Homo sapiens: one gene and its partner. The protein of the gene in region 2 interacts with the protein of the main gene of each other region in a pairwise test. Each region holds a gene or a part of one and is shown on either strand. Other genes may lie near its edges.

Evidence for each region. The genes of interacting proteins can lie anywhere in the genome.
Region 1: the proteins of TMEM19 (region 2) and SUSD6 interact in binary tests that used the Homo sapiens proteins (3 or more experiments, as listed by UniProt).

The regions. Positions count from the first base shown.
Region 1 is NC_000014.9:69,609,799-69,613,548, reverse strand, and holds the start of SUSD6 (sushi domain-containing protein 6 precursor), read right to left. Parts: upstream 1,954-3,750; 5' UTR 1,721-1,953; intron 1-1,720. UniProt on the Homo sapiens protein: May play a role in growth-suppressive activity and cell death. May be involved in the production of chemokine molecules in umbilical vein endothelial cells (HUVECs) cultured in THP1 monocyte LPS-induced medium. Plays a role in preventing tumor onset.
Region 2 is NC_000012.12:71,688,932-71,692,681, reverse strand, and holds part of TMEM19 (transmembrane protein 19), read right to left. Parts: intron 3,092-3,750; coding exon 2,978-3,091; intron 1-2,977.

The DNA of each region.
Region 1 (3,750 bases), on a different chromosome or scaffold from region 2:
CGGTATCACATAACTACTTGGGAGTACTGAATGAAAGAATGAACAAATGAATCTTATGCAAACATACCGTAAGTGTGTACCCAGGAGAAAGAGTTTAGAATGCTCATGATCTGAGAAACAGCCTGAAGCAGCAGTGCTTTCAGAAGGTTTTAGAAAGACTCCAGGTTCAATTTTATCAAAAGGTAAACAAACCAGAAACTAGCAGTATAATCTAGTAGTTCAGACTGTGGGCTCCACCATGAGATACCTATGTGACATGGGCGAGTTATTTAACTTGTTTGGTTTGGGTCTCAACTAGAAGAATGGGGATAATAATATCTACATCAAAAGTCTGTTATTAAATGAGTTCAAAAAAGTAAAGCCCTTAGCACAAAGGTTGGTACTCAGTAAGTCCTCAAGAACCTTTCCATATTATTGCTGCTTAAATACCTTCTTTCCTGAGATGTAGACATACCTCCCCCAACTCCAGGAAAATTTTAATTTCTGGTTGAATATGCTTCTAGCTAAAAACACAAAACCCAGAGAACTCAGAAGTCAGTGCCAAGCACATGTCTCTACTAGCCTCCACTAGATGGTGACAGTTTGGGTGTGGAATTCCCAAAACAGAAAAGGTGTGTGTGCGTAACTCCTATGTATGTTTTTACACCAGAGGAACGAAAACAGCAAGAAATGAATTAACTACTGTGAAGGAAAGACATACTTCCCATCTCTGTAGATCAAAAAAGGGAGTAAATCCCTAGGCCTAATTGAACTGAGTAATCTTACTGCACCTCTGGAAGAGCACACAGGAGCCCAGTTAGCGAGAGCAACAAAGCCCAGCATGTCGCCTGCCACTGAAAGAAAATTCTGTGGGAACAACAGCTTTAGGCCTCCTTGCCCAGACGCCAACTTCCCTTTAACCAGCCCAAGACTTTATTTTGACGCCTCTTTGCTCCTGGGTCTTGCTGTCCCCATAACCACCTCCCCCTCCTGCTCCTAAATTCGTCCAGGGTAACTTTTCTCCACTTCAGCAGCTCCCCAGCCACGACTCCCATGAGGGAGAGTCAGATCCACACTCATAGCTGGGGTCTCAAAACCAAGCGAAAAAAGGAAAGTCTGTATGTACGTGCCTACTTTTTGAAAGAAAATAGCTGGTTTCGGGGAGTTTAGCCTGGTTAATAAGAGAAGTTTTTGAGATTAAAGAGCAGCCGAGGCGCGGGGGCTCCCGAATGCCGCGGTGCGCACAGGCGGGCTCTGAGATTTCCTCAGGAAATCCACCTTCTCTAAGCCAGCCCTGCCCCAGCGCAAGCCCCGCAGCTTTGCTGGGCTGAGGGCAGTAATGACAGTGGCACAGAGGGCCTCTGCCTACCTCCTCTGCACCCATCGGCACGGCGTCTGGCTCTTCCGGTGCTGCCCGGGCAGCGACGCGGGACGGCGCGCCCCGGACCGCGGGTCACCAAGTTCCCGGCCGCAAACCAGCCGCCGGTCCCCCCGGCCGCGCAGCCCCCACTGCTGGCCGGCTGGCCGCGCCACGCCAGCGCGGGGCTCCCAGCGGCGCGGCTCGCGGCCGGGTGACAGCGGGCCGGCGCAGAGAAGCGCGGGGAGCCGCCGAAGCCGGCCCGGGCTCCGGCCAGCGTCACTCCTGGGCGGTGCGCGCTGGTCCCGCGCCCCTGACAGCCGGCCGAGCGCGTCGATGGCACAATGCCGGCCCCGCCGCCCCCGGGCCGCGGTGACAACTCACCCGGGAGCCGGCGGAGACCTCCGGGATGGGGGCGCTCACAGCTTCCACGCCGCCGCTTGCGCGCGCCCGCAGTCTTCTCGGGTCTAGGCGAGGCCCCGCGTGCCCTTGTCTAGCTCGCTCTGGCCGGCGCTGTGGGCAGAGGAAGCGGGCGGGAGGGAGGGAGGAGGTGGGGCGGTCGCCGGCTTCGGAGAATAGAACGCGGCGGTAGCGACGGCTGCAGCGCCCGCGTCACTGACCCAGCTGTACCGCGCGGGCGGGGGAGGCCCCGCGGAGGGGAGGGGGCGGGGAAGGGGCGGGAAAGGGGCAGGGCCAGGCGCGCACGCAACGGCGCCGGCGTCGCGCCGCCGCGACCGCCCCGCCGGGAGGCCCTGCACGCACGCGCCGCCGGCCGGGCCAGGTACCCAAGGGAGAAGCGACGCGGTTGGGGAGGTGGGGGGTCCTTAAAGAGACAGTCCCTCTGCGCTGGAGTGGATGGGGCGGTGGCACCGACTCAGCTGGACTATGCGGCGTTTCCAGTGCGCTCTCCAGTTCGTTTACTATTATTATTATTTGCATGATTGAATTACTATTATTTGCAAAGAATTGTACTGCCCTGAGGTTTACAAGGCTTTTGGCGCATGTTGCCTTGTTAGCTCTTGAATTGCTCGTCTGACCTAGCTCGTCTGAAGCAGGTTATTATCTCCCTGTTAAGCAGTAATCCGAACTGTGGTTCCTAGCCTGCCAACATTAAAGCTGCCCGGGGGGTGGGTGGGGGTGAAAATGCAGATTCGGGGCCCCGAATGACCTCCAGCCATTGTGATTCAGTGGGGTCGGACTTGGGAATCTGTATTTTCACTAGCATTCTGAAGTGAGTGATCCTTCAGCATACTAAAAGCACACAAGGGATCTCAAGGTTGAGAAAACCGCAGTTCAGAGCCAGGACTGGCAGAGCCCGGGCTAGAAGCCTGCCACATTCCTAACTGTATTTCCCCTCTTGAGCCTTGCCTTCTGGGGCTATTTTCTAGCACATACTGAGTGAGCAGTTTGTGCACTGTATGGCTACATCGTTTATTGGTGATCTCTCATGCAGTGTGTCCTCGGTTTATGTGTTTACAGGGCCCGTGGCGCCTTGATGGGGAGGACTCTGGCTTTTTATCTTTGTACCCCAGGGCCTTGCACCGTGTCGGTCTCAGAGGTCCTCCATAAGTGTTAAGGAACTCCTACTTGTAAATCAGTGGTAGAGTCCACATCTGGACCTACAGACTTGTGTCTTTGCTGCAGCTTGGGTCAGGCAGGCCTCTTCTCCCAGATGCTCTTGGACAAAAGGATACACCTTCTCAGGGCCTCTCACCAGGCCTAGTTCTAGTAGGCTTTCGGGAAAAGCACTGTGAATTAACAGGGCATGTCCTTGTGAAGTAGCTTGAACCAAATAAACAGGATGCTCCTCCCCATGCACACAGACCCATCCCCAAAAGAACCCTTCCCTTCTGGGCCCCACAGCAACCTGTGGCTCGTTGCTATAATGCCTTTTTCATAAGTCTATCCTTGTTCTGCCTTCTTTCTTCCTTGCCTTCTTGGGTCCAGACTCATTAGAGAAGATGGGCACCCCTCCCTTCCTGCTCATTTGGGGCCACACTGCCCAGACCACTAGAAGATTGAAAAGCACAATTCAGAACTACCTGGGTCTGCCTCAGAGCACAACCAAATCAGTGTGGGCAGCAGGAACATGCCAGGCAGACCCAAGGCTCAGGGAGGGGACAAGGGGGAAGGAAGCAAGGGAAAGGGATGGAGGAAGAATTGGAGAAGATGAATGGAGGAAGGAGAAAAAGAAAGAAAGGAAAGGGAAGAAAGCAGGCATGGATGGTTCAGGTCAGATCAACTGCCAAAGTAACTGAGCCCCTGGCTGTGCACTGAAGTCAGTTTGGCCATTAAGAGGCTCAGTAACTTCATACAAGAACTGCCACCTTATAAAATCCCTTGTGAGACCCTATGCAGATCTGTCCATCACTACCCAAAAATCCTCAGTCGGGCGCGGTAGCTCACGCCTGTAA
Region 2 (3,750 bases):
TTATAGCACTAGGATAATTTTTAGAAACATGCATATTATATTTTTGCTACCTGACTTTAGAACTATCAGTTACTACTGAAAGTAAGTTAAGGACATGCTTCCATCTACTACTACATTTGATCATTTCCAACTCTAAGGGCTGGCAGCAAATAAATGACTTCATGAGATTTGAATCCTATTCAATAAGAATACTTCATTAAGCACTAAGAAGCCTAGAACCAGAAACTTTTTAAGTGAGAATACTTCATTTAATTTTATTCTGCAAGTGTTAGTTTCAGTTTTCTGCAGTTTTCATTGTTTTCTGCCCAGAACTGTCTCTTCATCCTTCAAACCTCTCTATATACTTCTCTATTAATGCAGATGATAATAATAATAATCAGCATATATAATGAGGTAGGAGAGAGGTTGAGGGGGAGAAGTAATGTGAGCAGAGGTACGGAGAAAGAAAGAAATGTTTGTGGCAATGCCAATTTAATAGTCATTCACGTATAAAAATATGGTTGAAACTACATAATCACTAACAATGAACATTTTTGTATAGTTTACAAAGATGTGTTGCCTCATATAATATCTTGTTTGAGATTTACCAATAAGTCCATAAGATATTACTATTGGAGGTATTTCATAAGAGATTAAGAAAGTGAGTCTCCTAGGAGTTAGGCAGCATGCCCAAGTTTGCACTGGTAACAGGTGGCAGTGTTAGGTTTCATATCTTTTAATTCTAATCAACATAGGAGAGGAGCAGATGTCCAAGGGCTACAAGGCAGCCCTTCTAGCAGCAGGAAAGAAACAACAGTAGAGATCGTAAAAGTCAGAGAAGCAGGACAATATACAGCACAGAAGCCCAAGGAAGACAGAATTTCAAGAAGGACTTGACCTTTTTTTCTATAAGAATAATAAATTCCAAGGCAATGATATCTAAGAGCTTTTTTTTTTTTTCTTTTTGACACAGGGTATCACTCTGTTGCCCAAGCTGACTGAAGTGGCACGATCAGCCTCCTGTGTAGTTGGGACTACAGGTGTGCACTACCACGCCAGGCTAATTTTTTTTTTTTTTTTTTTTTTTTTTTTTTTTTGTAGAGGTGAAGTCTCATTATGCTGTCCAGGCTGGTCTCAAACTCCTGGACTCGAGTGATCCTTCTGCCTTGGCTTCCCAAAGTGCTGGGATTACAGGTGTGAGCCACTGCGACCAGCCCAGAAAGAACTTTTTTTAGCAAAGCATAAGTCCATGTTATTATATTTAAGCAGAGATTGTTCAAATTATGTTATAAATGATTTAATACTACCAAAGTGCTAACAGCAGTGCCTGGTACATAGAAAGTGTGACATAAGCATTTGTTAAATAGATAAAATATAACCACTCCTAATACTTATTGATTATATGGTAAAATAAAATTCATATAAAAATATCAGTATGTCTAGTTAACTTTAATTCTCAATTACCCCACAAAAGGAAAAGAAATCTCACAATATAACTTAAACAGTATTTCTTAATTATGAAGAGAATTGGCATGATTTTGAAGAACTCTGCCTAATAATAATAGTTACAAGCACTGAATAAATGTTGGCTATGTGTCCAGGCAATGAGGTAAGGACTTTAAATTATCGCATTTAATTCTCTCTATGCCCTAAAAATGAAATAAGGGGGAGATCCAGGCCTTGTGGAGCCCAAAGTTTATATAATTTGGGGTTCCCTCTTTAAGAAAAAGAGTACAACAGTTTTGACCTTTGCAAAATTGACAAAACCATAGGACCACGAGAGCACATTGCTAGAGTTTATTCAATTTTATCTCTCACTTCTTTTCCTATCGTTACTATTTTCTAGTCAAATGAGCCCTATTATTCTTACTCTCAAATAAGCCTCTAAAATATCTGGACTTTTGCACTTGTTATTCTGTCAGCCTGGAACATGATTCTGTCAGATCTCATTGCTAGCTTCTTCAGATACCAGTGCAAAATGACCTCCGTAGAGAAAAGCACCTGACACCATTTACAGAAGAATGCACTACATCTTCCAACATACACACTTTACAATTATCTTTTCATTTTTCTCATAAACTTCATCATTACCTGAACAGTTTTATATATTTTATTTATTATCTATCTGCCCTAAAGAATATAAGTTCCATGAGAACTGACACCACGTTCTTTTTGTTTACAGATCTATCCCAAGTTTTTAGAACAGTAGTACATACCAGTAAGTGTTCAATAAAAATTTGCTAAAAGAGGGGTCAGGCATGGTGGCTCATACCTGTAATCCCAGCACTTTGGGAGGCCCAGGCAGGTGATCACTTGAGACCAGGAGCTCGAGACCGGCCTGGTCAACATGGCGAAACCCTGTCTCTAATAAAAATACCAGAAAAAATTAGCTGGGCATGGTGGCACACACCTGTAGTCTCTACTCAGAGGCTGAGGCACAAGAATCGCTTGAATCCAGGAGGAGGAGGTTGCAGTGAGCCGATCATGCCACTGCACTCCAGCCTGGGCAACAGAGCAAGACTGTCTCGGGAAAAAAAAAATTGCTAAAAGAATGAATGCATATCCTGTTCTCAACTCAGTTTTGGAAAATTAATCCAGAACACTAAGTTTGGACTGCTCTGTTTTGAGATTACTAACAGCAATTTCCAAAAGTTATTCTCTCCAAATGCTCTATTTTACATATAGGAGGAGTGCTCCAGTGTTTCTGCTGGTAGAAGACTAATCAAACTAAAGGAGCAGAATAGTCAAGGTTCATCTATCCTATTAATCTACTTTGTATCAATCACAGAGTTTAATTTGTATGTTACACTAAAAGTGTACGTTAGTTTCTGAAATTTTGACAATAGGAATGCTGAGCAAGATGTAACTTTATCATTGTCTAAAATATATAACTGTGATTTGTAGTCAGTCTCATATATTCAGAATTTAGAAAACATAAATTTAAATTATATAAGCAAGCACTTAGTAGTTACTGTAAACATTCAAAATAAAAACATACCTCCTAGAGCCCCACTGTGATCTAGACTTTTCTTTTTAAGGCCATTAGAGACGATCAGAACAGGAACAACAACAGAAAACAGCCAACGCCACGGAGAAATAGGTCGTAAGTTACCTGAAAAATTATAAAGGTGGAGCACAAATTGTGTGAAGTTTGCACAGGTTAGTTTTGGCAGTAAACTTCCGTTACTGCTTTTAGACTAAAATACTGTCATAAGTACAAACACCAAGATGAAGTCACCAAAGAAATATATAGTCATGCATCACTTAAAGATAGGGATATGTTCTGAGAAATGCATCCTTAGGTGATTTCATGGTTATGCAAACGTCAGACTGTACTTACACACACCTAGATGGTAGAGCCTACTACACACTTAAGCTATATGCTATAGCCTATTGGTCCTAGGCTACAAACCTGTAAAGCATGTTACTGTACTGAATACTACAGGCAATTATAACGTATTTGTGTATCTAAACATAGAAAAAGTAGAGTAAAAATATGGTATTATAATCTTATGGGAACATGTTGTATGTGTGGTCTGTCATTGACGAAAACATTGTTAGGCAGAGCATGACTGTATTTATGTTGAGACATGCATGCATATTTTCGGAGAAACAGTCTTACTGGAGAATGGCCAAATAGGTTATGTCCAAGTTTTGAAAACCTTTTACTGCTATTTATGATAATAATGGATATCTAGATATTTAAAATGAACCTCTGGTTCATTTTTTTTAAAGGGGGCACGTATTAAATTTCAAGGACTACCTAGAACG